Homo sapiens: one gene and its partners. The protein of the gene in region 4 interacts with the protein of the main gene of each other region in a pairwise test. Each region holds a gene or a part of one and is shown on either strand. Other genes may lie near its edges. The genes, in order: UBL3, ATXN2, RBM47 and RBFOX1.

Region 1 (8,332 bases), on a different chromosome or scaffold from region 4:
AAATAGAAAATATGAATAGCTTTTTATGTACTGACGAAATACAATCAATAATCTTCACAAGAAAACTCCAGAGGGCTTCACCAGTGAATTCTTTCAAACATTTGTGGATGGAATAAAATCAATCTTCACAAATTCTTCCAGAGTATTAAAAAGCATTTCCCAACTCATCTTATGAGGTCAGCATAACCTTGATACCTAAATCTGTCAAATACTTTACAAGAAATTAAAATTGCTAGCCAATTGTTTTCATGAACAAAAAAAAACTCAATGAAGTATTATCTAGCATATACCATTTGAGTAATGTAAAATTAAAAGCTAGGTTTATCCAGAAATTCAAGGATGTTTTAAAATTAGGAAATATATATCCTTCTCTTTCCCACCCATCCCAAAATTAACACATATTTTTTGACAGAGCAACTACATTACTAAGAGTTTTGTCCTAAGGGAATAATCAGACAAGGCACAGAGATATGTTTAAGAATATCCATTATGTCATTGTTTGTAATAGCTTCTAAATGCTCATGAATATGGAATTCGCTAAATAATTTATATACATCTATCATAATCGGTTCAAAATTATAATACGGTTCTATACTTATTTGCATAGATAGATGTTCATAATATAGGCTGAGCTTTAAATATGTAAGGAGGCAGCTTTAGGCTAAACTTGATTTAACATGACAATGAGAATAGCAGGATACAAAAGCAAGACTATTTCTAAGGCAAAGAAAAACACTAATTTTATATGAAAGTAAAGAAAAACATATATCATAAGAACATTTTGTCTAGACACAATAAATTGCCATCTTAAGTACATAAACAAAAATGTTAATGTCAAACTTCAACAATTTTCTTCAGCAGAAAGAACATTTTCTTCTCAAAATCTAGTCAGAAAATTACCCAAATATATATTTACTTAAGACCAAAAATGCTACTAGATTTGACCAACCAATAGAGAATCTCTCTCTCTCTCTCTCTCTCTCTACATATATATATGCAGTTAAAAGTATGGAGACAAAAACAAAATGCCCCGAAATCACTAAATCCTTTACAAGTCAATCTATTTGTTACATATATATATAAAGCATTCAAAGTAGTACTTTTTAAGAAAAATCCACTGTGTAACAAATATATACATAAGAAGACTCAAAGTTCCAACAAGTTTAAAGGAAACTCCCTTTAATTTTACCAATTAGTAAGACAACCAACCTTAATTAAAATCATTCCAATCCAGATGTTACATAGTTTATTACAAAGATATATGAAGTAGGTTTCATTTCTACCATGCTAGCTCAGACCAATCAGTAGGGACTCCCTGGAGCAAGGTATTGGGAAGGAATCTAAGGCATTCTTAGGATAATGTGCCTGAGGGATTCAGTAATGTTTGCTCAGTTACCGTTGTGGGGAGGGGTGTAGATGTTTATCACTATTGCCACCAGACCCAAACTCCTATTCTAGCTCAACTTCTTCCTCGCTATGTGATCTCAAACAAGTTCCTTACCCTCTCTGAACCTAGGCTGTGAGAAAGTAAAAATGAGCTCGGTTGATAATCAGACTGTGATATCTGAAAGATAGAAGACCAACAGGTAAAAAGTTTTTCCTATGGCCACACTGCAGCTCCAAAATGACCAACAATCTCCCATTCTGTAAGTGATTATGTTTTCTCACCAATGACTTTCCAAATCCCCTTCATTTATCCTGTCTCCTAAACAAAGACTGCTGAAAGACCCAATTACTAACCCACCTCCAGTTGATGTACGATAGCATTCAGTCCAGGAGTCCCTGCTTCCAGCACAGCCCAAACCCTACTGAAAACTCCTCCCATTCTCTTTCTTTTTTTTTTTTTTTTTTTTTTTTAGAGACAGAGTCTTACTCTGTCGCCCAGGCTGGAGTGCAGTGGCGCAATCTCAGCTCACTGCAACCTCTGCTCACTGCAACCTCCACCTCCTGGGTTCAAGTGATTCTCCTGCCTCAGCCTCCGGAGTAGCTGCGATTACAGACGCCTGCCACAATGCCCAGCTAATTTTTGTATTTTTAGTAGAGATGGGGGTTTCACCATGTTGGTCAGGGTGGTCTCGAACTCCTGACCTCAAGTGATCCACCCACCTCGGCCTCCCAAAATGTTGGGATTACAGGTGTGAGCCACCGTGCCCAGCCCTCCCATTCTCTTTTACTGACACTTGGCAGGATCTGGCATACGCTCTTCCTAGCTGCAAAACAGTCAACCTAACTTGTTTCACCACAGATGCATTCCTGGTGGTCTTCACCTGGTGGGTATTAAGAGTTTCTTTATCTATATACCAACCATATTTATCCAGGGTGACTGTAAGGATTAAATTAAATGCTATAATGTAAAATGCCAAGCATCTGCCTGGTACTAGAAAGTACACAACAAATATTAGTTCTCTCTCCTCTACGAGCTCAAAGTAAAGTTATGTGTAATTTTTTTATCACCTAAGCAGTTCTTCACTATCAAGAAACTGCATCTCTGCAAAACATAACTAACAGCCAGAAAATTAGCCCTCCTAAAAAGAGAATTCTAAGCAACCAAAACAGATATGATCAAGTCCATGAAACAAAAGATACTCACTTTACTGTGAGGTAACTCCTAAAATCCTACTCAGACACCATTTGCTCATTTTAAACACATATTATTTTTAATAAACTTTGGAAATATGGTTTCCACACCCATAGCAAATTAAAACCAGCAACTGTAAATGGTTAGGAATAAGTAGGCACACTGATCACAGGAAAAAACAGCTGCTCAACAAGGCAGGAGACAGAAAACTTCTAACTATCAAACACAAGAAGTTAAAATGCTCAGAAATCTTTAGTCATCTAGTGCAGTGGCTCCTACATTTTTTTGACTGAAGATCCCAAATATAAAATACTTGAGGCACATACCTATAGTATATGTGTTTTCATTTATAAACATACACATAGTATAAAACATATACTAAAAACAGAAATTAAAAGATTAAAATTTTGTTTTTACTTTACTATTTTAACTATCAACTATTTTAAATATTAACTTGTTTTAATCTTTCAATCACTAAAAATGCTATTACTATTAACATATTAGGTGAGCATTATTATTAAATATATCTCCATTTTTTTAAATCTTAGTTTCTTCTTTTGTGAAGTTCAATGTATTTTGCACTTGGTTTTAAGAGCTGTCATAAGTCATACCTGAAAAACTTATCTTACAAAGATGAGATCTATATAGAAGAACATGTCACTTACTAACTTACTAAATCATATTACTTTTTCATTCTATCACCAAATACGCAAACATTTTTATTCAAAGTCAGCTACCTGATGTCAATGTTATTAAAATTTTCTTTTTCCTGACTGCAATAAGAATGTTTACAAATTAAAATGTTTGGCTTTCCAATAAATGGTCCAAAGTCAATTAAAATTCATTGTAAGGAAGATTTTCAACAGACTGTAAATACTTCAACATGCTTTCAAAATGTTCTCCATAACATGTTTCTTTTGAAAAGCAGGTACTTTCTCACTTACTGTTTAAAATGTCGATTTTGCCTTGAAGTGACAACTTGGGGATTTTTTCCCAAACACATCCGCTAGATTTTTATTTTTGGTAGCCTCTTGTCATCACGGATAAGAACAGCATATAGAATACTCATCTTTTGTAATAAAAATGTGTGATTAATCTTTGAGTTCTACAACTCTTAAATGCTTTGACAGCAAACCTCTGTTCCCCATCTCAATAAGAAGTATCATAGATTCTTCTTTTAAAAAGTATTTTTAAAGGGACTATATAACAGAAAAACTGGAAAAACTCTGAGAAACTCATGGTGCTGTTGCTGGCATCTACATTCTAGAATTCACACATCTTCCCTCAGCAAACCACACTCTCAGTGACCACCTGAATGCAGGTGGACCTAGGAGAACCTCACAGCCAATTCACATAGTATGAATAGAAAAGCTCAATTCTTTTCCCTTTTGGGGGACAAAATAAACAAACAGAAGTTCTCATATTTACTTCTCAAAATTGACTTGCTTCACCTCATTTTGTAAATTACTGATCTAGTGAAGGGGCATAAAGCTTCACAATCTATATTAGGTGCCGAGGGTATTATAGTTGTAGCTTATGCCTGTTAATACTACTACCATATTACACAGACAGGTACCCAATAAACACTGATTGAATGCAAGCAATATTATTCAAATCATAGCTCTAAGTCATCAAAAATAAGTTAAATTATGCATAGTATATTTCATTTAAGCAAATGCAATGGTAATCCAACATTGTTAGATTGGGCTATCTTAACACTCAACCTCCAAGTATTCAGAAAATTTACTGGTTCGGAATGACTTATTACCCAAGGTTTCCAGGTTACCATGAATTCTACAGTCACTCTTCATTTTTCCCTCCCAGAATAAGATGACTTAGAAAATCAAAGAGCACATTTACTAAGTATATGCTTCAGTCTCCTAAAACATATTTAATGTTCTATATTGTGAAAACTATTAGCACCATCAGTATTTTATCCACTAATTTAAAATAACTTCAAGTTTTAATACTATAAATATATATTTTTCATATTCCAAGTGATAACAGAAGCAGACATTATAGACTTCATATTTAACACCACTATTACTACGGAACAATATTTATTTTTTTCTGTAAGTAACGAAGACAGTAATAGTTTGTGAGTCAAGAAAGTCACTCAACAATTTCTGAATGTCTAAAAAATATCAGAGGTGAAATAAAAGTGATACTATATCCATAGAAATTTGATACCTGTGTAAGAGGAATGTCAAAAGCACTAAAGAAAAATGGTTTACAAGAAGGAAAGATCACTGTGGCCTAAAATGAACTAAAGACCATTTTAGACACAAGCTGGGGTAGGATTCAGAGCTAGAAAGAAGGAATTCAAAGCTGTGGGAAACAATGTCATCTGTTTTCTTAATAAAAATGTCTAATTCAAAATACCAAATAGGAGACATTCAAGTAAAAATTCAGAGAAACATTCAATTCTTAATATATTATTTATTAAGCTATTCAAGTCACACATATATGTAAACAGTACTTATCTACCTTTTGGCTTTATAAAACCCTCCAACTTAAACCTGAAATAAGAATCATCAGGAATAGAAAGAAAAATAAAAAGGAGCTGTAACTAAAGAGGAAAAAGTCCCTGGGCATTAAATCTCAGTATACTTTTCTATTTTCTGGACCTTTTCCTTTCATGGCATTTTCTCCTGGTATATTCAACATATGTCATTTTACTTTAACTTGGAAAAGTGATAAAAGTTCACTTTGAAAGGAAATGTATTTTAGTAATTTCCTGTCCACAAGAGGGCTCCAATAATTCTTACATGAATGGAAGTGATATAACAAAAGTTACAATAAAAATATTCATTAAGCACATAAAATATACTGGAAAAAACTTGAATTGTCATTATCTGATTCAACTCCTATTACAAATTGATCTGCTACAATTTTTACATTACAGTTGTTAAAGATACGGGGCTTTTCTTTGACCGTTTTATCAACTAAAATGTTTTGAATCACAAAATTGCTTTGCCATTATTCTCACACTGTCAATTTCTCTCTTAAAGTTTTCAATGTAATAGATAAAGTATAATTTTAGTCCAAAGCTCTAAATAGTAGCCTAAATGTTGTATACAATACTCTTATAAAAACAAGAATGTATTTCTTGATAACTTTACCAATCCAGAAAACAAAATTACCATTGCTTGCCCAGTCTTAGGCCTTATTACTAACACAGGCAGTAAATATTTTCTTGCAAAAAACCTACAGTGGTTAACATAAGTCACACTGCAACTATAAACAATGAATATAGCCGCATCATGAACTATGATCTTGGCTGCAACATAAATAAATAAATACATCATTTAAATACAATATATTATAATGATATTCTGTTGAGATATTTTCAGATTTTTTCACAAATAAGTTACTACACTAAGATGTTATTAAATCTAGTTCAAACTCAATCACTCTTAGCAAAGAAAAACCAACATTTCAAGTAAATACACTTGTAATATTTATAGGACATATATATTGCAGAATGTAGTAAAAGTACCAACTACAAATTATGTTTTAAAGGGTACAGCAAATCCATTCACTACGGGTGCCACTCCCTCATCCAAAAAATTGACATTTGGATCATTAAAAATGAGACTCCTTATGCTAAACACAAAAATTTACTGGATGTTCAAAAATAAATTTTAAATGGGAGTTCTACCTACAAAACAAAAACCAAAGCTAAAAAATCTATTTTAAAGTGAGTCATAATCACGGCCATAAAAAGACTTTACCAAAAACATCAATTGATTTAGCAATTATTGTAGCTCGAGAATAAATTATCTCTATTGGAAACATGATAGGGGTTAACTTCACCACTCCATCCCATCTCCCCAACAGGATTTTCCTATACAACTGACAAGCACCATTAACATATAAAAGATTGACTTCAATAGAAATGACACCACCACCAAAAAGTAAAAAAGTGTAACATTTGTTTCAGCACAGTTGACAGCACATACTGTCAACTAGGAGAAAGCTTAACATTTTACTGCATCTAGCAAAAATGTATTTAACAGTACATATCCTGATCAATTTAGAGTTATGCTGCAAGGGATATATGTCATTAGCTTTGCTGTGGGAGTGGTGAGAGGAGCTCTTCAAGGTTTGGAGCGGTAAATTGTTGTCATGAATGTAAACTAAAATCAATTGTCAATTCATGGTATTAAGAGTTTAATAATCATGAAGCATTTAATCGACAACTTCTAACCAGTATTTGTCATGTTATATTTCAAAAAGTTGAGAATTCTAGGCACATAGCAAATGATAGACTTCTTAAGCAAAAATGCAAAGTTAAGTAATAAACGAACGTTTAAAAGACTTTCACAAAGAGAAAATCTTAACCTCTAACCAGTTGAACAGTAGAAAACAAGACATAAAAAAATACTCAGAACAATCAAACCTGTGCTGTACGTTAGTACCCACTCTGAAATAGCATCATCAGGGCATTATATATTTATTACATAATATTGCTTTGCCCTTGCATATCACCTTTAATCAAAGGATCTCAAAGCACCACAGAATCAAGGCCTTAACATCCAGTCTCAAACAGATAAACTGTTATATTTTATAATTGCAGATATTAATAAAACCCTGCTCCTACTTCCCAGTCCTCTGATCCTAACATCAGCCTCCAAACCCTCTCTCTGACTTGGAAACAGTATTTCCCAAATCATCTCAATCTGTGACTGATGCCACGCACATTCCAGCTTTTCTTCACTGGACCTAAAGGAAGTAGCGGCACTGTTTTAATAACACATCTATTTCATTCCAACGTCTGTGAGAGAATAGACGGTACTTAAGGTTAACCTATTTTGCACTGTGCTTGATGATATAAAATGGAGGCTTTCGAGAGAGCAAATCTTTGCTCGAGGCGATGAACCCACAGATCACTCATCAAACAAGGGAAATAGCATTTCCCAGCTCTGTCTAGAGACCGCTCCCGGCAACTTCAAGAGCAGTATGGAGGAAAGCTTGTCCAGCCGTACTTAACCAGGCAGGAGGCTATTTCATGTGTGCACACCAGAAGAGAAGCGAAAACTAAAAGGACAACGCACGAGTTTTAGGACTCAGGAAGGAGACTGTAAAGCTGTTATGTGGCCACCCCCAGAGACAGAACACTGTGTTTCCTTTGCATTCAATGGGAAATTAAACAAGAGCAAAATTCCTTTAAACCAAGGTCAAAATAAGCCATTTAGAATCATTTAATTTTTGTTATAAAATCTGTATATGAGGTTTGCTCCTCTAGAAACATCTGGCGTTTTAAAATTTAATCATCAGCAGGCTGGGCGCAGTGGCTCACGCCTGTAATCCCAGCACTTTGGGAGGCCAAGATGGGTGGATCATCTGAGGTCAGGAGTTTGAGACCAGCCTGGCCAACATGGTGAAACCCTGTCTCCACAAAAAAAAAAAAAAAAAAAAAAAAAAATTAGCCAGGTGTGGTGGTGGGCACCTGTAATCCCAGTTACTTGGGAGGCTGAGGCAGGAGAATCGCTTGAACCCAGGAGGCAGAGGTTGCAGTGAGCCGAGATCGCGCCATTGCACTCCAGCCTGGGCAACAAGAGCAAAACTCCGTCTCAAAAAATAAAAATTAAATTAAAATTAAATTAAAATTAAAAAATAAAATAAAATTTAATCATCAGCAAAGTTCAATTTGTTTCCACTGAATACACAAACACTCAAATGTTAACATATGTGAGCACAACTACGTTAACTTCAATTCTTTCATAAACAGGATTATTCCTCTTCCTGGTA
Region 2 (5,934 bases), on a different chromosome or scaffold from region 4:
GAATAGCAATCATTAAAATCTTGGGCCAGAGAACACTATTTTTACATAACAGTTTCTTAACCTAAAGTCAAGGCCTTGGACTCTTCCCTGAGGGTTGCCTGAGATTCCTTCATGCTTTCTATTCAGGACTAAGTCCCTTACTGCAAATGTGTTAGCTCTAACATCTCCCACAAGCTAGAGGAACTTGCGAGTATATTAACAAGGACACATCTGACATCCTGTGTTTGGTTAGAATATACAGCACATTGTGATAACATAAAGTGGATTCATCTTGTATCATTATAGGCAGAAGGTATTTGGCAAATTTTTATGTATTGTTTTATGTACTGTACAAGTAACTTATTCTTGAATAATGCAAATTTTGCTATAATGTACAAATTGCTATATGTGAATTAAAAAGTTTTCAGAATCTTGATTTGCTGTCATAATATTTAAAGGCTCTATTAAGACCATGGTGTCTCTACAAAATCCTTGCCCTGCCCAAATACTCGCTCTTCCCTTTGTCCTCCCCGTTGCAATCTGGGAATACTAACAAATGCTTATGAGTCCATCCATGTCAATAAGCAGCTTTGTACATCTTTGTATCTTTTCAGCCTTCATGCCCTCTGGATTTCTTTATTGCAATTTTTTTCTGAGTGTCTCCTGCCCCCTACTGGTAAAGTAGAAAAATGCCCGAATTGGGAACTTCCAGCTAATGACACTCATTTTGGTTCAGGAGATATTAAAAAGGAAGCTTACAGAATCGGTGTCAGCCCGAGGATGTGGAATTTCAGTGCTGCCCAACTCTGGCCAACCTTCCTCCTCCTGAAGCAGATCTCTAATCCACCAAAGAGAATAGCTCAGTCTTGTCTTTTTCTAGAGATACCTTGAACCAGAACTAAGGGTGAAGAAGAAAAATCATTTCACAGCTACCTTCCGGGATATTCAAAATGCACCCTTAGCACACCTGCTTTGATATTAAGTATCCTACAAAGAAGTAGCTTATACAGACACACACTAACTTGATCAGTTTTTAAAACTTTTTTTATTTTTTAAATTTTTTTTAAGTTTTTATTTTATATTATCTACAAAGTAAAAGTTTTTCCCTTAACTTAAAAGTTGAACCACTGTAGACAGTGATCACCTCATCAAACTTGATTTATAAATAATAATCCGTCAGTTTGACGGTAAGAATTTACTGAAACTTTGTCAAGTTTAGTAAAAGGGCGTTCCAAGTCTTGATTTTTTTTTTTTTTTTTTTTTAGCAGTAATAGCAGCAAGAATCACTCTTGTTACTTCTTTTGCTAGCTGATGTGTTCATGACTTTCAAGGGTTATTAAAAAATAAATAACTTCCAGTTTCGGCAAGCAGAGCTGGGGTACCTGCGGGACTCTGAAACAGCATATGGAATTATGGAATAGCCCCCAAGTTCCTAAATGCCTCTACTCGGTCCAAGTATCTTCCACTGCAAGTGAACTGTTAGCATTCCTATTGGATGTTACAAGAAATCAACATATATATTTTAAAAACAAAATAAATGAAATTCTAGTTTTCTGTGCTTCCAGTTGGTAGAAGCAGTAGAAGGGAGGAGGGAATTTGGCCTTTCGGTTCCTCCAGGGCAGCCTTACAACTGCTGTTGGTGGTGGGCTTGTACTGTAAAAAGAAAAGCGAACATTGAAACAGAAAACTGGCAACACCACACATCAGCCTAGTGTCTCTGCAGCACATGATTGTAAACTATCCTCGTGCTAGCTGAACAAAACTCAAAATTGAATTCGCTTTTCCCCCTCCCATCTGCACCAAAGTGGGGAGGGTTGGGTGGGTGGGTAGAAACAAACCAGTCAGACGTAAAACCACTTCAGATAAAACTCCCAGAAGACTTGTTCATGGGGTAGAAAAAAAGGCCTTAACAAACCCCCTCCCCAAATATTAGCCAAGCACCAGTATTGCTTTCAGAATAACAGGTCAGACTGTGAAGTATCGCCATGGCAGCCATCAAGTAGTAGAGCACAATCACAGGGCGCTCTCCCCTGTTCAGGGGCTGGGGCTAACGCTACACTCAAAGCCAGTCCATCCACAGCGCTTTCTCAGCAGTATCTTCTCCAGAGCTACAATCAAACTCTGCCATGGTAATAACCCCCCACATGTCAGACTTTTGGGACTCAGGAAGGAAAACACTGCCCTGTCCAGCCTGTCATAACAAGGAAGGCCAACTGAGTCCTAGGCATGCATCAGGCTGCTGTTGCTGCTGCTGCTGCTTCTCATCAAGCCAAATCCTGTATACCATCAGAACACACACAGACTCGGCTCCCGGAAGCCTCAGGCCCTGATGCTGAACTGATCGTCACAGTCCCTCCTGTGCACACTCCTGGACGGGTCTTGCTAGTTCTCAAATGCGGGGCTTGAAGCACTGGCCCTGCCTGCCATTCCACCTGTGCGAGCAGAATGCTTTGGGGTGCCCCGGCGGCCCCTGCACACACACGCCTCACCTGAAGGGTGCGTCATATAGGGGAAATGCGCTGTTGTCGAGACTGGAATGGGCTGTAGTGCACTTTGAGCGAGGGCGGCCTGGGGACCGCCGGGTGGCTGTGTCGTCATTAGCATCATTGGCGCATGGGCAGTTGGATGAGAAGGAACCATTCCTGACTGTACATGAGCCTGAAACAGAGAGCTCTTTTACGCATACAGGCAACATCTCCGGCTTCAACAACATGTCAACTGTGTTCCTTTCACTGGGCTGGGACTCTCAGGAAAGGGCAACGGTGGGCCTCAGGGCCCAGTTCTGTTCTCTGGGGACAATCTCTAGTAGATTATCTATTGACCTGAAGACGCGCTTCACCTTTGGGCAGATCCTGCAAGGGTCAGGGAGCAGGCAACAAGTGAGCCTGGGTAGAAGTCAGGGCTGTGCTGTCCTAACCCTTGACATTTCTGATCATTGTATTCTATGTATGGGGTAAGATCTTCACAAAGATTAGACACTGGATCCAAGGGCAGCTTTCTCAACTTAATATCATACAAGATTCAATGATGCTTCAGAATCAGGCTGCCATGTGGGGCCTGAGGTAGTTTTGCAGATAACATCCCTTTCAAATAGGAAAACAGATTACATTAATAAGCAGAGACTGTCACAGTCAAGTATGTGAATTACTTGGACCTCTGTTCATTTGCCTCTCTCCCTCTGCTTCTGGTCTGCTCACCAGGCAGTGAAAAGAGACTCTTAGGCCCCCGTGACTCTCTCAGAGATATGCTGATGGAGCAGGAGGAGGAGGAGGAGTTGGAGTTTTTAATGGCTCCAGTGAGATGGAAAGGAGTAACCTGAAGTCATCTGGGCCAGCCCAGCGTCTCTGTACCAAGTTCAACCTGGTCTCACTCACTGTCAAGTTGGAAAGGTGATTTTAGTCAGCCCAAACAGCTGGATTCCAGCTCTGCAGGGGGTTGGCAGGGCCAGGAAGAGCCCTTGTTTCCTTTTTCCCACACTGTGCACTGTTCTAGACTACGATAAGCCTTGGATGAAATGCCGTTTTTACTCTCACATATTCAAACGGGCACATGGCAAATTTGAGCTTCCCTGTGTTAACCTTTTTGCCCTTTCAGCACAAAAACAGAGTGAGGTTTTAGGGATCCCTGACTTACATGTAAGTTCACATGCCTACTTAGCCACCAGCCTCTGGTAGACACCTACAGGACCCCAGCTCTTATGAAGCTGACTCCACCAAACCACGCTGGCCCACACGGACCAAACCGGCTTCCCTCCCCACTATCAAAAAGCAAATCAACTGCAGTGCGCTACACCACAGAACCTAAACTTTGCAGGGTGAGGACGCCCAAACTTCCCAGAGCTGTGGAACTCTACTTACAAGGTAGCCTTCTGAGAGATAGATCCAACTGAGTCGCATCTCTAGCCCACACCTTGCCAGAGCCTCACTGGCGCACTATTTAACAGGAAATGGAATTCATTGTGGCAGGTCTCACTTAGACCCGCCTCAGAGAGTTCTGTTATGAAAGTAGCAGAGACATCTAATACAGCCAATTCACCCGTAACAGCCCCAGGGAGGGCCTCAAGGCCAGCGTTAGAGCCCAACTTCAGTGCAGCTCCTTCTCCTCATTAAGACAATCCCCTGGGCCCTGGAGTGCAGGGACCTTTGTCAGCAGCTGATGCAGACAGCAACCACTGAGATGGCAAGCACACCTTTCACCTGTAGCAGCTTACACTGGAGGTGAGCTCCAAAGTGCTTCCAGGGCTGCTCTTAAAGAAAAATGGGACCACCTGGGTGCTTCCAGCTTCTAGTTACACTGCACCAATGTCCAAGGCCAAGCCCTCTCAAGAGTACAACTTATGGTCAAAGCAGATATATGGATAACCAGGGAAAACAATTGGAGAGATGTGTCTGGAACTCATGTGAGTAACAATCAAGTTGACAGGCCCCGGTAGTCACTTCGGAGAGCTGAGACTCTGTGAAGGCCATCATCCCTGCCTGGCTTCCAAGGTAAGTGTGTAGGGGAATATATATGTACACATATATATAGTAGTGAGGCTATATAGACATAGCAAAGCAGACACAGAAAGGAAAGAAGGACTGGGTTGCATTCCAGAGTCAAAGATATTTTTAAGGTCTCAGTTGGAAAACTAAAGGACTGACCAATCAGCACCTTCACTGATCCCATGACAAAACCACACAAACATTCCCTTAGGGCCAGATCACGTGTATTTGAGAGGGAAAGGGAGACAGGCAAATGGCATGACACACAGGGTTTCCTAGCTGGGAGAGCCTCTAGCTGCTTACTGATAACCTTCACATTCTACTTGGCCTTCACAGAAAGTTGGCTAAAGCTGGTATTACCTGAGGTACGTGGGCCATGTGGGGTGGGTTGGTATACGCCGGCTGAACGTGAGAAGGATGGATCGTAAAGACAGTCTGTTGTGCTGCTGGGAAACTATTCTGTGGCGACTGCGTGTTGGAGGCAGGTGTCATGGAGGGTGGAGTTGGCGCAAGCCCCGCGTGGTAAATGGCTGACTGCTGCTGTGGACTGGCCAGATGGAGAGCCTGGGCGGCCTGGTGCTGATGGTGCTGCAAAGCGACAGGAAAGAATTGAGAGGAAAACTTCTTTAATGAAAAGCAGCCAAGGGATACCCACAAAGCTAAGCTTTGCACACTTGGGCCTATGATGAGGGTCACTGGAAAGTACAGGAGAATGTACAGGGTGGTAAGAGCAAGGCTGGAGGTGCCTCCCATCTGGACAACTCCTTTCTAGGGTACAGAAGCCTGATTCTCAGTCTGGCAGTTAGAAACTTCTGAGCATACATACTAAAGTCAAAAAAGACTACTGCCCCAGGGAACTGATAGATATCAAAGACATCTTTAACTGCCTCCATTAGCAAACATAATTCAAGAAGCTCATAGGAAAATAACCTCATCACATAAACCTTAGAAATTAAAAAGTCCCAAGCAAATAGGAATTTGCCTTATGAACTTTATGTTAAATTTGATTTTTCATTACTGCAAGTTTCCAGAGCTTATCCAATCACCTTATTATCAACATGTATCTTAAATGTGATTTTTTTTAATTTTTTATTTTTTTGAGACAGAGTCTCGCTGTTGTCCAAGCTGGAGTGCAGTGGCGCGATCTCTGCTCACTGCAAGCTCCGCCTCCCGGGTTCACGCCATTCTCCTTCCTCAGCCTCCCGAGAAGCTGGGACTACAGGCGCCCACCACCACGCCCGGCTAATTTTTTTGTATTTTTATTAGAGACGGAGTTTCACAGTGTTCGCCAGGATGGTCTCAATCTCCTGACCTCGTGATCCACCCGCCTCGGCCTCCCAAAGTGGTGGGATTACAGGCGTGAGCCACTGCGCCCAGCCTTTAAATGTGATTCTTAAAACCACCACCCCAGGGGCACAGCTGTATCCATCTTCACGAGGGTGGACATGCCATGTGTTCTGACGATGCGATACCT
Region 3 (8,332 bases), on a different chromosome or scaffold from region 4:
TAATCCCAGCACTTTGGGAGGCTGAGGAGGGCGGATCATGAAGTCAGGAGATCAAGACCATCCTGGCTAACAGGTGAAACCCCGTCTCCACTAAAAAAATACAAAAAATTAGCCAGGCATGGTGGCACGTGCCTGTAGTCCTAGCTACTCAGGAGGCTGAGGCCGGAGAATCGCCTGAACCTGGGAGGCGGAGGTTGCAGTAAGCCGAGATCACGCCACTACACTCCAGCCTGGGCGACAGAGCGAGACACCGTCGCAAAAAACAAACAAACAAACAAACAAACAAACAAACAAAAAAAGACAAAAACAAACAAAAAAAAAACCCTGATGGCAACAGCCAGTGCGGACTGATAGGAGACAGAAATAGTCAGGACATGATTATGGTGCCTGGAATTTGGACCTGACCAGAACTCACAGTGCACATGAAAGACAAGTGTTCATGAATTTCTTACTAAAGGAGAATTAGAAATTATTATCAGAATTCCACTAAGTACTGCTGCTACGCTATAGTAAATATTTACCGTCAGTCCACAAGTATTATAACTATACTTAGTTGTTATTCTACAGTGTCATTTACAACCAATTCCTCTTTTTGTCTTTCAGAGATCCCAAGTTAAAGAATACTTAATGACATACTGAAAGATAAATAAGCTTCAATTAGTCTGCCCTTTCTGAATAATGCAGTCAAGACTAGTGTTCAGAGTGGGCAAAAGCAAGTAAACAGCATCCTACTGTGGAGGGTCACAGGCCTGGCTCTGTTTCAGAATCATTGAGGAGCTGTGCAAAATATCAATTCTAGGACTCCAGCCCAGTTTGACCGAATTGGAATCTTCAGGGATTAGAGTCTAAGAATCTCTGTTTTTTAAAAAATGTAGGCAACGGCTCATGCCTGTAATCCCAGCACTTGGGGAGCTTGAGGTGGGAGGATCGCTTGAGCCCAGGAGTTCAATACCAGCTTGGGCAACATAGCAAGACTTTGTCCCTACAAATAAAAAAGTTAGCCGGGCATGGTGGTGCGTGTTTGTGGTCCCAACTACTTGGGAGGCTGAGGTGGGAGGATTGCTTGAACCAGGGAGGTTGAGGTTGCAGTGAGCCATGCACTCCAGCCTGGGTGACAGAGTGAGACTGTCTCAAAAAAATCAAAAATCAAAAATCAAAAAAAGTGGCCTGGATAATTCTTTTTCAATTGGATAAGGGATCCTGGGCCTGAGTACTTGTGATCGGTATTCATGATTCACTGCCTCACAGAAAACAGCTTTAACAAGATTTTCTTCTGTTAAATGGATGTCCTCCCTATGTCCTATAAGGTGAAGATACAAAGAAACAGGACACAGTCTTTGGTCTGTAGGAGCTTCATTTTCCTTGGGAGATAGAACACACTGGCAGCCATAGGCCAAGTAATGATGTAGTAATCAGGAGTACAAGAGAGAAAATTTCATGGCCGGGCGCGGTGGCTCACGCCTGTAATCCCAGCACTTTGGGAGGCCAAGGTGGGCGGATCACGAGGTCAGGAGATTGAGACTATCCTGGCTGACACGGTGAAACCCCGTCTCTACTAAAAATACAAAAAATTAGCCGGGCATGGTGGCGTGCGCCTGTAGTCCCAGCTACTCGGGAGGCTGAGGCAGGAGAATGGCGTGAACCTGGGAGGCGGAGCTTGCAGTGAGCCGAGATGGCGCCACTGCGCTCCAGCCTGGGCGACAGAGCGAGACTCCGTCTAAAAAAAAAAAAAAAAGAGAGAGAAAATTTATCTAGGAGGTGGATGGGAAAGATTCTATGGAAGAGATGAGAATAAAGAAACCAGGATACACTATGAAAAAGGTGGGGAAGGAGGCCAACATGGTAAGATGAGTTTGGGAAGAGATAGGGGAACAGTGGGAGATATGGTTGGAAGAGAGGATTATGGGCATATTTTGTAAATTTATTTTTGAGACAGGGTCTCACTCTGTTGCCCAGGCTGGAGTGCAGTAGTGCAATCACAGATCACTGCAGCCTTGACCTCAAGGCTGGTCAAGTGGTCCTCCTGCCTCAGCCTCCCCAGTAGCTGGGACTACAGGCATATGCCACCATGCCAGGCTAATTTAAAAAAAAAAAATTGTAGAGACAGTGTCTCACCATGTTGCCCAGGCTGGTCCTGAACTCCTGGCCTCAAGTGATCCTCCCATCTTGGCCTCCCTATGTGCTGGGATTACAGGCATGAGCCACTGTACCCAGCACAAAATTTTACGTATCTATACAGATGTTCTTTCTCTCTCTCTCTCTCTTTACACACACACACACACACACACACACACACACACACACACGGGGGTTAACATTTTTTTAAAAAATCTTCATTGAGCTGCAGTTTGAAATGTGAAAATGTGAAATCACTCCCTGGACTTTGTGTGTCAGCTCTTTAACAATATGAGCTAAAAATTATCCAGTGCTATTTTAAAAAAATATATGCACAATATTATGACACTGTGAAAAATTACACATAATTTTTGCATATTGATTACCACCCTTAATACAATGATATTATTAGGGTAGTACAATTAATTAAAAATTTTTTTTTCTGTCATGCTTCAAATTCAAAATGCTTTGTGTCACCCAACCATAGCTGTAACAGAGAGCCAGGCACACAGTAAATTCTCAGTGCTGAATACTAAATGAATCCATGTTAAAGAGAGGCTTCACACACAAATGACAATGCCTGCAATAAGAACTCTACCTGGAAAGGTGGTGGCGTCGACACAGTGGGAATGACAGCGGCTGCGGCGGCTGCGGCCGCGGCTGCGGCGGCAGCAGCACTGGCTGGGTCTGGCTGCACAGCAATGGGGCTGATCATGTGCTCCACTGTGTGGATTTTGCCATCTTCAATCATTTTAGGGGCTGGAGCTGCTGGAAACATGGAATACTGAGCCCCAATGGCAGGGATGGCTACTGCAAGAGAAGCAAGAAGGAAAAACAGGTCAATCACTTTCAGTCGCTGAGTGGGGTCCAGCACTTGCTCTAAGATATTTTTTATTTTTATTTTTTTAAAAACTTTTCTTTTTTTTGAGACAGGGTCTCACTCTGTGGCCCAGGCTGGAATGCAGTGGTGCGATCAAGGCTCACTGCAGCCTCAATCTCTTGGCCTCAAGAGATCCTCCCACCTCAGCCTCCTGAGTAGCTGGGACTACAGGTACAGGCCACCTTGCCCAGCTTTTTGTTTTTGCTGTTGTAGAGACAGGGTTTCGCCACGTTGCCCAGGCTGGTCTTGAACTCCTGAGCTCAAGCGATCCAACTGCCTTGGCCTCCCAAAGTGCTGGGATTACAGGTGTGAGCCACCGCGCCCAGCCTAAGATATTTTTTAAAACCACGTTTAGAGGTCCTGGGCCTCTCCATGCTCACTATTGTTCTCTCAGTACAAGCCATGTACCCAGATGCCTGCTCCCTAGAGGAAGGGATGGGTGGTGGCAGGTAACTCCCCCTGCCTGTTGTGGAAGAGACCCCTAGAGTAAGGCTTTTGCACCAATATTTTCTACTATTTCTACAGAAAAATCACAGTTTGAATGTTATTCTTGATGTCCTACTGAGCAAGAAAGGGCCTCTGACTATGGGAAAACAGGCTTAGACGAAGAAGTGAGATCAGAGGCTTGAAGCCTACTGCCTGTGAGAGTTGGGCCTGCCTGTTCCTTCCTACTCACCTCACTCATTACCAGCCGCACTGCCTTTTTTTCACTTTCACCACTATTTAAGAAACAGGTGCTGTTGAGGGTTTCATTCTGAGAACTCAGACCTGTGTACATCCTCCCCACCCTGTATTTCAGATTTCAACATTACCGATTCAAGGAAAAACACATGGTAAAAAAAAATAGCACATTCCCCAGTTTCCTCATGCCCACGCAAAGTAGTGAAGATGTGGAGTGATTGGCTTTTAGTGGGACCTCCCAATTCAAAGAATTTCTGCAAGTAAAGTCCAAAATTATGATTTCAACCAGAGATTCAAACAGCAGCTATTGAATGTCAAGGTACAGTAAGAAGAGATCAAAAGGAAAAGATATCAGCCCTTTTGTGTGAGTGTGTGTGTGTGGGGCGGGGGTGTGTGTGTGTGTGTGTGTGTGTGTGTGTGTGTGTGTTGAAAGGACAAACAAAAATATGAAATGTGTACACAAAGAATCTTTCTATTTCTGGTTTTCTCCAACTGTAGGTACATTTATTCTAAATAGGACAGACTCAATCAAAGGTAAAGAGACAAATGATTGTAAGCTAAACAATGGTACAGCCATTCGATAAAATATACCTAAAACCTTAATCAAATCTTTTACCTGCCTTTCCAACCATATCTTCCACTGGTCTTGTGCCCAGATACTTCACCACCACCCTGGTGCCTCTCCTAAAATACAATGTTCTCATTTTCTGGATGATCAGAAATAGACGCCAATCGATGGGGCCCAGAGAGGGTTGTGAGTTTAAGCTACAAGGGGTTGTATGAAGTAAATGAATTGTTCTGGCTATCAGCCCACAGGAATTTCTACCTCAGGCTCCAGGACACAACTTTACATAGTTAAAGATTATTTAACAGTTCTTTTCTCTTGTTAAACCTTAAGCTACCGTAACTTGCCAAAGGGAGTTCCCTTCTCAACAAGTAGAAGCGACGACTCCCATATCCAGGCTCTATTTTATTAAGTTACAGAGCTGTGGGATCAGTTTTACTTTGCCCACAGTGCCAATGACATTTAAAAGGCAATCTAGTCTAAGGAGTCACTTAACTGCAGAAATTGCAGAATTTTTACACAGGCAAAAAAAAAAAAAAAAAAAAAAAAATCATTACTAGAATCATCAAAAGAAAGTTCAATTGGGGAAATGCTTTTTAACTCTATGAGGCCAATGTGTACCTATGTCCCAAATGCACAGATTCCTTGACTCTATTTTAGCTAGGGAGAGAAGTGTACAATCTCAACCAGAAGAAAATCAGAGTAGCTGGGCTCCAAACAGTTCTTCAACTTCCTCCTGCTGAAGCCAGGAGGGGTCTGGAGGAGGGTCGTGCCAATTACCCACGGACTGAGCTTTCCATGTGTTTGGATGCTTCTGCAGGGTGCTACGTGAGTTTGTGATAGACTCACACAATGGAGTTAATGTTTTTTGCAGGTTCGGATCAGAAGACCGGCCTCACATTAGATGGTCATGGGCACTAATGACATTAATAAACAGGTTTGTAGGGCCTGGAGGTGAAGGCTAAGTTCAGGGTCCCTGGCTTGAAATACTTGAGCATCCCTACTCCCAATCTACTGATCCAACTAGAGGAGGAAATGAGTGCTGGAAATGAGAAACCAGGGAATTAGCTGCAAAAATTTTCAGCAAAGGCCAGGTGCAGTGGCTCATGCCTGTAATCCCAGCACTTTGGGAGGCTCAGGCGGGTGGCTCACTTGAGGTCAGGAGTTCGAGAACAGCCTGGGCAATGTGGTGAAACCCCATCTCTACTAAATATACAAAAATTAGCCAGGCATGGTGGTGCGCGCCTGTAGTTCCAGCTACTCGGGAGGTTGAGGCAGGAGAATCGCTTAACCCGGGAGGTGGAGGTTGCAGTGTGCCGAGATCATGCCACTGCACTCCAGCCCGGGTGACACAGCAAGACTCCATCTCAAACAACAACAAAACTTTCACCACTGCCTTGTCCTCAAGCATTCTTATTTGCTCAGACCATGACAAGGGACAAAAGGTGCTGCTTACTCCTGAAGGGGAATTTTCTGCCCTTCCAAACAACTCTCAGAATGGGGCAATAAGCTCTACCCTCCGACTTCAGATGGTCGGGGCAGAAATAGGCCTGAGTAAGGAAAAGACAGGTTTTACCTGATAGAAGATACAGAGAGCCTCATGTTCTTCCTTTCTTCCCCCTACAACTCTCCTTACTTAGCCACAGACTGAGACAAAACCTAACAATGGGTGACAGCCCTTTGAAAACCTTACTGCATGGCCAGGCGCAGTGGCTCACTCCTCTAATCCCAGCACTTTGGGAGGCCGAGACGGGTGGATCATAAGGTCAGGAGATCGAGACCATCCTGGCTAACACGGTGAAACCCCATCTCTACTAAAAATACAAAAAAAAAAAAAAAAAAAATTAGCCGGGCATGGTGGTGGGCACCTGTAGTCCCAGCTATTCTGGAGGCTGAGATAGGAGAATGGTGTGCACCCAGGAGGCAGAGCTTGCAGTGAGCCAAGATCATGCCACTGCACTCCAGCCTGGGCGACAGAGCGAGACTCTGTCTCAAAAAAAAAAAAAAACAAACAAACAAACAAACAAAAAAAAACCTTACTCAGGCAAGTTTGATTTGAACATAGTCAAAGCTACACCATCCCCTGAAGTTCTAGATAAGGAGGTCCAGGGGGTCACTTTATTTTTGCCTTGTCTCTAGCTGCCTAGGAGAAGAGGAACCCCTGTGCAGATGTGAGAGCCTGAAAAACGCTTGGATTCACTTCAAACAGAAGGGCTGGGGTTTATGCTGAATGGGAGCATTCTCAATCTGCTTCATACTGACCTGTACCAGGTTTAATGGCAACTGGGTTGACGGTAGGGATTTCCAAATTCGGCACCAGTTCATATCCTTTTTCTTGCTGCTTTCCTTTCCCTTCATGATATCGGCTATATATACCACGACCAGCAGAATATCCCCCGAGGTAGGAACCCCTAGGCCCTGGGGCTCTGTTGCCAGCTGCACCTCGCCCTCGGCCTCTTATGCTGCCTGCTTGTAATAACAACACAAAAGATGATCAGCAACCAACAGTGACGGTGCTGGAGGCAGACCTCAGCCCTCGGTTCTCGGCATTTAACTGCCCCAGTCTTAATTGCAGGTGGCTACACCTTTGCTCTTTAATAGGCTGGTAAAGATGCTTCCAACATTCTATTTCAGCCTAGATTTGCATCCTAAGCATGTCTTCTTAGTACAAGAGGCAAACTTGCAGGGTGAGTTTCTAGGATTGTATCTGCAATTTCAGTAAAGAAAAACATTCATAGACTACCCACCACCCCCTCCCCCCCGCCAAAAAAAAAACTGTGGCCAGGTGTGGTGTCTTATGCCTGTAATCCCAGCACTTTGGGAGGCTGAGGCGAGAGGATGGCTTGAGCCCAGGGGTTCAAGACCAGCCTGGGGAGCATGGTGAGACCCTGTCTCAAAAAAAAAAAAAAAAAATATATATATATATATATATAAAATACATATATATATATATAAAATACATATATATATATAAAATACATATATATATATATAATACATATATATATACTATTAAATAATTTTTTTTAAAGTTAGCTTTGGAAGGGGATTTGCTGGTCCACCTTCCTCATTTCATGCTTGAGAAAACAGGCCAGGGGAGATTAAAGTGACTAACTAAAGTCACAGACCCAGTTAATCAGAGAACAGGACCCAGAACCTATGTATCTTATTTTCCAGGTTATGCTGGGTGTCATTATATCCTAATCAGTGATAACAAAAAACAAAATTAAAAATCACGGACTCCACCAACATCTTAAGATTTAATATCACAAGCAGGTTTTAACGTAAGCACCAAGAGAATGGTGGACTAGCCCCTAACCCGGTGGACCTCGGCAAGGAAGAATTCCAGCACTTGCATATTCCTGTGATTTTACCGCTCACCCCAGAACGATCTGTATTTCTATCAGTGCTGCATAAGTGACGGCCTTCGGTGCCAGGAAAGAATTAGACCCAGAATGCAAACCCAAAACGGGGGTGGGAGGGCCTTCAGCACCTACCAGCTCAGCAAATGCCAGCCACGGTATCCCTGGTGCCCCCTGCCTAGGAGGCAACGTTCTTGGGGGCCCCACCCAGGAGAAGAGCCCCCACTAACCTTTCACAAAGTAGTCCCTGTTGGGCCCAATGAGCGCGTTGTAGGGGTAGCCGTAGTAGGCCAGTGTGTAGGGGTCGCAGGAGTACACGTAGCTGGGCTGCTGCGCTGCCTCAGCCGCGCCGCCGCCCCTGGCTGCCTTCTGGTAGCGCGAGTACTGCTCCTTGTCCACGGGCTTGGCCAGCGTGACCTCCAGGCACGAGCCCTCCAGCTCAGTGCCGTTGAGGTTGTTCATGGCATGCACGGCATCCTCGCGGCTGGTGAAGTGCACGAAGGCGTAGTCGCGGATCTTCTTGACGCGCTCCACGCAGCCGGGGTTGAACTGGCCGAAGCTCTTCTTGATGGTGTCCTCGGTGGTCTCGATCATGAGGTTGCGCACGTAGAGGATCTTCACGGTCTCCATCACGTCCTCGTCCACGTCGATCTCAGGTTCGGCCCAGTCCACGGCGATCTGGTGGCCCCACAGCTGGATGCGGCCAGGCATGAGCTTGCGGCGAGCCAT
Region 4 (9,105 bases):
ATATGTTTATACAATTAAATACTATCACAAATTGTTTAGATACTATCACAAATTGTTTTTTGTTTGTTTGTTTGTTTTGTTTTGTTTTTGAGGCAGGGTCTCATTCTGGTCACCCAGGCTGGAGTGCAGTGGCGTGATATCGGCTCACTGCAGCCTCAACCTTCTCAGGCTCAGGTGATTCTCCCACTTCAGCCTCCAGGGTAGCTGGGATTACATGTGTGCACCACCACACCCATCTAATTGTTTGTATTTTTAGTACAGACAGGGTTTTGCTAAGTTGTCCAGGCTGGTCTTGAACTCCTGGACTCAAGCAATACGCCCACCTCAGCCTCCCAGAGTGATGGGATTACAGGCATGAGCCACTGCACCTGGCCACAAAATTTTATATCTAAACATACTAATTGCAATGTGTGAATCCCAGGAGGAATGATAAAGCCACTTCTAATATTCTTCGATTCTTGTGTTTTCAAAATATTCTATGTATTAAATAAATGATGTTCTAATTAAAAAAAAAAAAACAGATTTGCTAAGGTAATACTTTCATCCCAGGGGGCCAAGGAGATCAAGTCCTTTCAGTGGGTCAGAAGAAATGTACAACTGCTGCAAAAACTTAATTTCAGGTGCTTGTCAAGACAGCAAGTCAAATGCCACCAACCTATATCTTGGCCAGTGGGTGGGCAGCTTGTCCGTGATCCTCCTTGGAACATGCAGAGAGCAGAATGGGAGAGCTTGAGGCTTCTGTTCCTTACTTAAAAGAAAACGTGTGTGTATAAGGCAAGCCACCTGCCTTTCCTGTACCACTCGGTGCTACAAGGCTCAAAAATTAGAGGAATCTACTTGAAAGAATAAAGAAACAAAACTCATAGAATTCAGGCACTTACCATGTGCCAAACTGTTCTAAATGTTTAGTGCTTTAAGTAATTTACCCCCAAACCCTCTGAGGACAGAACTACGACTGAAACTCTGATTTTACAGGTGACAACCCGAAGCTCAGAGAGGTAAAGCAACTTGCCCAAGGTCACACAGCTGGCAGATAACGGATCCAGAAGCCCTGTGCTCTTCTGAGCCATAAAGCTCCACTCTCTGGACCCCTAAGGTGTCACTTCCACTACCGCGAGGAATGATGACTTTTCTTCCTAACCCGAGGCAACCATAAGCTAACTTAAGGAAAGCCCAGGGGATTCTTCCAAACGGAGGGCCTCCCTGACGAGCTCAAAGAGGACACAGGTTTTGAGTCAGCCCCACTTTTTACCAGCACAGCCACTGCCAGCACCACCTTTACCCTTCACAGGCCCCAGGTCCTTTGCTTCTGAACATAAAAGATCTTAGCTAAAAATAAATCTGCCAGTAGCTCCAGCCGGGGCCTCTGTGGTCACTTAAAAATTGAAAGAATCCAGGCCCTCTCATCTTTTTTTTCTCTCTTTTGTAACAAAGATAAAATGATAAATGGAGGGGAGATGAACTAGGACAGGGGGCAGGGAAGGGATGGCAGGCTGGGGCATGTCCTAAACTTGGGCTGTCAAGGCCAGGCCTCTCTGCACAACGGAGTTTAAAAATAAAAATAAACAATCATTATTCTAATAAAGGAAAACCCAAGTTAGGAGACATGATGTTTCAACTCAACAAAGCTATTTCACCACACTCCCCCACTTCTTTTCAAGTTCAACTGAAAAGATCCGCCTTTGGGGTGCCAATTGCCCGGACTGCCTGACCAGGATTTCCAAGCTCTTCAGTAGCCGCACCCCAGATGTTCCAGTGCCAGCAGGTGCACCCCAGCTCTGGCCCACACAGGAGCGATGAGCTCTCCCAGCCCCCTGACCATTCCCTGGCAGCAAGGAATGGAGCTGGGGGCTCCAGGACAAGGTTAGATCGGGGTCTTCCCCTCCCTTGCTGAGTGGACAGCTTCCGGGCTCCGCGTGACACCTGGTCCCCGCAGCTGGCGCCAGGGAGGCTCCAGGAGCTCACAGCCAAGTGGCCTCCTGGGCGGTGGGGAGATGGGAGCGGCGCCCCACTAGCCCCGCCCTCGCTTCCATAGCTGGACAATTGGTTGATTGGAGCTGACAAGCCCCCCCCTGGCCTGCACAACAACACAGGGCTAAGATCTGCTACCCCTGTGTTTCCTTCTCTGGGGTGAAGGTTCTCTAAGGCTCCCAGGAACCAGGGGCACAGTAGGAGTTTCCCATTCGCAGGTTTCCCGGCTGGCCCCCTCCCCTGGGGTCGAGGTGGCACCGCGGGGCATCGATTCCAGTGCCAGTAAACACAGCGGCGCTTTCTCCACATAAGTGAGCCTTCTCTTCCCCTCCTCCCACAAGGGGTTCGGGGCACCTAAACACCCTCCCGGGTCACTAAGATGCCTCCTCCTGCACACCCTGCGGGCGGAGGCAGCGGTCCGGGGGCGCGCTGAGTGCACGCTTGCAGCCGGCCAGGGAGACTAATCAAAGTGCGCAGGCAGGCTCCCGCTGCTCCTGGCACCTAGGACTCGCTCCCAGGAGGACGGACGAGGTAGCCTGGATGCTTCGGAGGGGCGCTCTGGGGCAAGGAAGGACGTGCTTCTGGAAGCGACGCACAAGGGGGCTCAGGGTCTCGGCCTCCTGGGGGTAGGGGGGGACACGCCTCGAGATCTTTCCACACACCCTGAAAAAGTTCCCGTCCAGAGCGCCCAGACTGGCGCTAGGAGGAGGCCAGTTCTCGGGGACCTAGCGCTTCCCTCCATGAGACCTTCTGGACCTGACCCACCAGGTCAGGGTGGGTGCAGAGGCAATGACTCCGCCTGGACTTACCTAGAACTCCCGGCGAGCCCGGCTGCGGTCACGTTCTCGGCCCCAGACCCCCGAATTCCCGTGCGCTCTCTGCACCCCCAGCCACACTCACCATAAGCTGGAGGCGGCGGAAGGGGGTGCTGGTTTCTCACGCACTGTCCGCAACTTCGCGGGCAGGTCAGCCCCGCCCTGGCGCGCCTGCCTGGGCGCGGCGAGGGTCCGGACAGGCGGGGACCCTGGCGGCCACTGGGTGGGGGTCTGGAGCGCAAGGACTCTCAATCCCGGGCGCGCGGTCCGCTCCTGCTCTCTCTGCCTGGGCAAGAAGCTCGGAGTTCTCCTGCTCCGGACGCCGGGGCGGGGCCCACGGCTGGCTGTCCCCTCCAGATGTGGGGTGCTCGGCTCGGCTCACTCCTTCCTTCTTCAGCCCCGGAGGCGCGCGCGTGGGTCCAGCCAGTGCCGCCGCCTCTGCTGTTCCCGGGGCTGGCAGAGCGCCCCCGCCCCACCGCGGGTGCTGCTGGGGGGCTGGGGCGGAGGGGGAGGGATTCCCCTCCGCGAGTTCGGGTTTCCCCACCCGACGCGGCCCCTGGGCTCCGTCCGCCGTCCGCCACCCTCCGCGCTGCTTGGAGAACCACTTCAGGGCAGCGCAGCCAGTCCCACCGACTCTGGCTGGAGGAGGCGGCGGCAGCGCGGCTCGCACGGGGACTGGAAAGGAGGTGACCTTCAAACCCCGCGCTCGGGAGACCAGGAAGGGGGCTGGGGTGATCGAGGGAGCGGTGTGTGCACCCAGACGGCCAGCAAGAGCGCTTGTAGGAGGGCGGGAGAGAATAAAGAGGAAATCTTCCAGTAAAAATATAGATTAGAAAATAAACAAAGGAGAGCCGGAGAGAGCGCGAGAAAATGTGTGCATGTGTGTGTGTGCGTGTGTGTCTGTGTGTGTGTGAGCGCGCGACAAGCAGCGAGCAGCCCCGGCTGCGGAGCCAAAAATAATCTGGTGCGCGAGGGAGCGCCCCCTCCCCCTTCCCCTCGCCAGCGCCGCCGCCGCCGCGGTCACGCGTGCAGCCCTGGATTCCAGCGGGCGGCGGCGGCGGACACGCGACCCGGTACCCTGGTCTCCTGGCCTAAAGGGGACAGAGGGTGAAAGTTGGATGCTGGGGCAATGAGCCCAGGACTTTCACCTGCGCCCGTCCTCGTCCTGGTAGTCCCCAGGTGGGCTCACTCATTGAGCACCAGCGCCCTCCTCCCAACCCCAATCAAAGTAGACAAATCCCCCACTAGAGACGCCAAGTGGAGGCAGCTTCTTGCCCCAGTCCATTTCTTCTCTGAGGAAGTTTTCTGGCAAGTCTTCAAATCTTCCGGCCAGGCAGAGATCGAGCCCTATCCAAGATTCAAAAAGTTCTCCAGGCTGGATGGGATGCAGGGCTGGGGTGGGTGCGGCTGGCCTGGGACGCCCCCACCCCGCACAGCTGGGCCTCTCCTGTCCTGCCCCCTTCCTGGCCACCTACTCCCGCAATGGACGCTGAAGGGGTCTAGGGATTGTCCTCCTAGCAGATGTCTTACAGCCAGAAGCCCCATGACGCCTTAATACACACTAGCACTTAATAAGCATTTACTTTCCACCAGATGCTGTTTTAAGCACTTTACATGGAGTCTTTTCAACAACTGGAAGTAGATACTGGAGGTTTATCCATTTCACAGATGCTTAGAGAGATTAAAGCAATATTTCTCCCTTCCTGGGTCCCACTCTGGACTGGAGTGAGAAACTCTGCTCTTCCCCTACCTTTTCCTTTCCCTCCCTCCCTTCCTTCCTCCCTCCCTTTCTTCCTTCCTCCTTTCCTCCCTTCCTTCCTTTCTCCCTTCCTCTTTTTTCCACAAATATTCCAGGGGGTTTTGTTGTACAATAAAGTCAGTCTGAGGTTCAGTGAGTTGTAATTTGTTCAAGGTCACATAGCTGGCAAGGAACCAGGACTCCCCAGGCAGTCTACCTCATTTTATGTGGCACCACCCTGCCTTCTGAAGGGCAGGTGGCATTGGACAAGGCCAGATTCCAGCCTTGAGCACTTGATCTGAGGCGCCTGTTCATTTTCCCATCCTGTGATGTGACTGTGTTTGCACTTATACCATGGATCCTCTTATAAGAAATGCTGTAAGCTTTCCAAAACAGGGGGCCATGTGATGTGCATTCCTTTGTACTAGATGTACGTGTATTTCCTAGCGCCCATCAAGGAGCAGATTCCTTAAGGGTTCCTCTTGCAATCCTATCGGGCTGCGGTTTCTTTCAACCTCAGAATAAAAGAAAGGGAACTTCTGCCTATAACTATATTACTTTTTAAAGCACGCAATATTTAATCATCATTTGAAAAAGTAAGTTTGCAAAATCCAGAAAGATATCTTTATCATTGGTCCCAGCGATTTTGCAATTTGGGTTGATTTTTACCATATGTTTCCTTAGGATTCTCTTTGATAATAATATATTTGTATGTAAGCAATTTTTTTTTCTTTATACTAGTCTCATCCTTCAGTGATAGCAAAATGAAACCATAAATCTGGGTTGGTAACATCATAATCATTTCCCCCAGAAACTGTTCACAATGGGAAAACCGCCGAATTTAAATGTAATTGTCTAGCCATGCAGGGAGATGAGATGGGTTGTAAAAGAGGTATTCTCAATTTAAAAGCAAATTATCAATAATGATAGAAGAAATAAATGGCAGTTAACGGGAAATTCTGTTGGAATATACTGTTTTGTGCAAATTCACCAACAGGAATTGTTTGTCTATTCTCCTTCATTTTTTATTCCAGAAAGGAACAAATGAATGCAATCATTCAAGGCAGTAACATCAGCTGTTGTTACATTAAAATGGGTAATTGCTGGGCCCTTTGATTATTTTTAATACATATATATATTTACCATTGGAAATAAAACATATTCATCTATCTGAAAATCAAGTTCAGCTTGAGTCTGCTCTGATTTATTTATTGTAGAGTAGAAATAGGCTTAGATAGATTAGTGATGAGTGTCAGGCATGACTCACTGGTACCTGTATTGCTACATGGCTTAAGAATATGAGTGTGAGAGGCATCCATTACAATTTAAAACAAAATTAGAGTAAAGATCAATATGGCATGCCATTATGCTATTCATTTGGAAAGTATTAGTTTCTTTCTCACAATGACCTTTCGCATTCCAAGTAGAGTTTTTCCTGTCATTTCTCCATGTTGAGCCACTGGAAGATAAATGAGAGGTGCTGAAGTTGACAGCTCCCAGGACAACCTAGGGCCAAGAATCGCCCTGCTATGGTTAGAAAGAACCTGGAGACTTTGGCTCCTCCTACTGGACATGAAAAATACTTTCCAATTTGTGATCTAAGCAAATGTCAAAAATGGTACCTTTCATAAAGCTGGTTTAAAAAGAACAAGGACTTTGTAGCCTTGTGCTTGGCTGAGAGCTCTCTAAAGTGTAAATTTCATCATCTTACTTTAAAACTTAGGATCTTCCTATAGCTCTTCATTATTCCCCAGGATAAGGTCTAAAGTTGTCCATGTGGTTTACCAGCTCCTGGCTCTTTTTAAGTTCACTCTGTGACCCAGGAGGGCTTTTCTCTTGTTGTATCCAATCTTTTGTATATGTTGTTCCTCCAACCAGGAATACCCTTACATACTCTCTTTTCCTGGATAGCTTCTGTTTAGTTTTTAGATCTCCATTTCAATATCACTTTCTCCCTGCCAATCCCTCAACTCCCTACCCAGCCCCCCATAGGCACAGATAAGGTGTTCTTGCGAACTCCTCTAACACCTCCATTTACCTTTACCCTGTCATTTGTCTCAGCTTACTGTAAATGTTGTTCTCTTCTATTAAACTAAAAGGTCTTTACATCAAAGATTTGTTCCCTGATGCACAGCACCAGCCACATAATAAGCTCAATAAATGATAGGTGAACCTTCCTTCTTTCCTGCAGTAGATTGCTGTCTAAATGGGCTAACCACTTTGGAATGAAATGAGAAGTCAACCTGCTCATCCATTTATGTAGTCCTTTGTTCTTTCAGTCATCAAACATGCATCCTTCTTGAGGCTAGTCCCCCATGTAAACCATTTAGTATATAAACTAGACTCAATTTCTGCACTCGAGAAGCGTACAGTCCAATAGCATATGCAGACACATAAATGAGTGATTGCAACTGTCTTGAAACATTTGGCCAATACGGAGCAGGAGCCTATAGCCAGATATGGCAGAAGGGCAGAAGGTCAGGCAAAGCATTCTAGAGAAGATCGTGTCTAAATAGAGAAGATAAATAGGAATTCCACAGAGAGTTGGGTGATGGATATTCCCGAAGGAGAATACAGCTTATGAAAGTGCCTGAAGCAAAACAGCATAGCTCCTTCTAGGAACAGCAAATCTGTTCAATATAAATAGAGTCCTGTTGAAGTTAAGGGGCTGGACAATGGTGAAAGAGCCAAGAGAGTAGAAGCTGGAACTAAAGATATGGGCTAGGGAAGGCCCAAGGCAGGCTCTGAAATGATTTGTAAGGCGTATTTGCTTTACCACAGGCAGTGGAGAGTGACTGGTTAGCTTTTCAAGATGCACCATTACCATAATGATTTCCACTGCCAGTGCTCTGGGCTTCACTCTGCCTTCACTGATGTTTCAATGACCATTTTCTCCATTATTATCTTATATTTGTTTAATAACTTTTCCAGAAGGTCAGTGTAAACATCCAGTGAATTCCAGGGATTTGTAGATTACTCCAGAGTACTCTAGGATTTTTAAGAGATTATCAGTGATATATTAAACAGAATAGGAAAAGGATGAAAAAAGCAAGCTAAAAAAATCTAAGATCTAAAAATCTAAGAAGGCCAGAGGGTGGTGGCTCTTGCTCATACCTGTAATCCCATCAGTCTGGGAGGCTGAAGTGGGCAGACTGCTTGAGCCTAGGAGTTTGAGACCAGCCTGGGAAACACTGTGAAACCCCATCTCTACAAGAAATTTAAAATATTAGCCAGGCGTAGTGGTGTGCACCTGTAGTCTCAGCTACTTGGGAGGCTGAGGTGGGGGGATTGCTTAAGCCTGGGAGCTTGAGGCTACAGAAAGCTGCAACCACACCACTGTACTCCAGCCTGGGCAAAAGAGTGAGACTTGGTCTCAGAAAAAAAAAAAAAAATCAAGTAGCCAAGCATCCTTTTATTCCTCCTCCCAAGGATACCTTTCAATAGCAGTCACAGAAGAGTTGATACAATACTCAAATGTATCCATAAATGACTCTGGGTTCAATAACATGATTTGCACAATTTAAATATTATATAAGACCTACTTTGCCCACAAGTTCTCAGTCTTCAGACTTACCTGAAGGCTTTCTCACAAACGGAGTCAACTAATGAACTAATTAAAACAGTCAGTCTGAGGACCACAGGGGAATGGATTGCACCTTATATTCTCTGTTCCCCCCTCAGTCCTTGGGCACATGGCAGATACTCAATATATAGTTATTGATTGCTTGAACTCACTCACCATCTATCGTGTAGGTCAGGGTTTTGATATTAACCAAGGCATTTAATACTGAGAATGAGCTATCTGGTGTCCACAGATGAGGTCTCTTTTTTGTGAAAAGACAGCAACTTTTGCACTCTGTTTCAATGTGTCTTTGAAATAGTAAACATGATAGTTTTTCCTCTTCTACTTGGGCTCATTCCTTTTCCTCTCCTGCCTTCATCCCCTTAATAAGATGGAGAAAATACTAATGGTAGCAAAGACAGCACCTTAAGCAATGGTCATGATGATAACAAAAACAGCTACAAAAGCAACAAGCATGTGGTATTTACTATATAAGCTCTTTGATTGTATCATCTCATTTAGTCCTCACAGTGTAAGTACCATTATGATTTCCTTTTTATTTTTTAATTTTTTTATTATACTTTAAGTTTTAGGGTACATGTGCACAACGTGCAGGTTTGTTACGTATGCATACATGTACCATGTTGGTGTGCTGCACCCATTAACTCGTCATTTAACATTAGGTGTATCTCCTAATGCTAACCCTCCCCCCTCCCCCCATCCCACAACAGGCCCCGGTGTGTGATGTTCCCCTTGCTGTGTCCAAGTGTTCTCATTGTTCAATTCCCACCTGTGAGTGAAAACATGCGGTGTTTGTTTTTTTTTCCTTGCCATAGTTTGCTGAGAATGATGGTTTCCAGCTTCATCCATGCGGCACTATTCACAATAGCAAAGACTTGGAACCAACCCAAATGTCCAACAATGATAGACTGGATTAAGAAAATGTGGCACACATACACCGTGGAATACTATGCAGCCATAAAAAATTATTTCCTTTTTAAATAGATGAGCAAACCAAA

What was found.
Region 1: the proteins of RBFOX1 (region 4) and UBL3 interact in binary tests that used the Homo sapiens proteins (3 or more experiments, as listed by UniProt).
Region 2: the proteins of RBFOX1 (region 4) and ATXN2 interact in binary tests that used the Homo sapiens proteins (3 or more experiments, as listed by UniProt).
Region 3: the proteins of RBFOX1 (region 4) and RBM47 interact in binary tests that used the Homo sapiens proteins (3 or more experiments, as listed by UniProt).

What each region holds. Positions count from the first base shown.
Region 1 is NC_000013.11:29,840,302-29,848,633, forward strand, and holds part of UBL3 (ubiquitin-like protein 3), read right to left. Parts: intron 1-8,332.
Region 2 is NC_000012.12:111,451,209-111,457,142, forward strand, and holds the end of ATXN2 (ataxin-2), read right to left. Parts: intron 5,049-5,934; coding exon 4,821-5,048; intron 3,912-4,820; coding exon of another isoform or gene 3,837-3,911; intron 2,638-3,836; coding exon 2,469-2,637; intron 1,633-2,468; coding exon 1,604-1,632; 3' UTR 1,006-1,603; downstream 1-1,005. UniProt on the Homo sapiens protein: Involved in EGFR trafficking, acting as negative regulator of endocytic EGFR internalization at the plasma membrane.
Region 3 is NC_000004.12:40,429,938-40,438,269, forward strand, and holds part of RBM47 (RNA-binding protein 47), read right to left. Parts: coding exon 7,834-8,332; intron 6,711-7,833; coding exon 6,504-6,710; intron 2,926-6,503; coding exon 2,714-2,925; intron 1-2,713. UniProt on the Homo sapiens protein: Single-stranded RNA-binding protein that functions in a variety of RNA processes, including alternative splicing, RNA stabilization, and RNA editing. Functions as an enzyme-substrate adapter for the cytidine deaminase APOBEC1.
Region 4 is NC_000016.10:6,013,668-6,022,772, reverse strand, and holds the start of RBFOX1 (RNA binding protein fox-1 homolog 1), read right to left. Parts: upstream 3,750-9,105; 5' UTR 2,875-3,749; coding exon of another isoform or gene 2,872-2,874; 5' UTR 2,781-2,871; intron 1-2,780. UniProt on the Homo sapiens protein: RNA-binding protein that regulates alternative splicing events by binding to 5'-UGCAUGU-3' elements. Regulates alternative splicing of tissue-specific exons and of differentially spliced exons during erythropoiesis.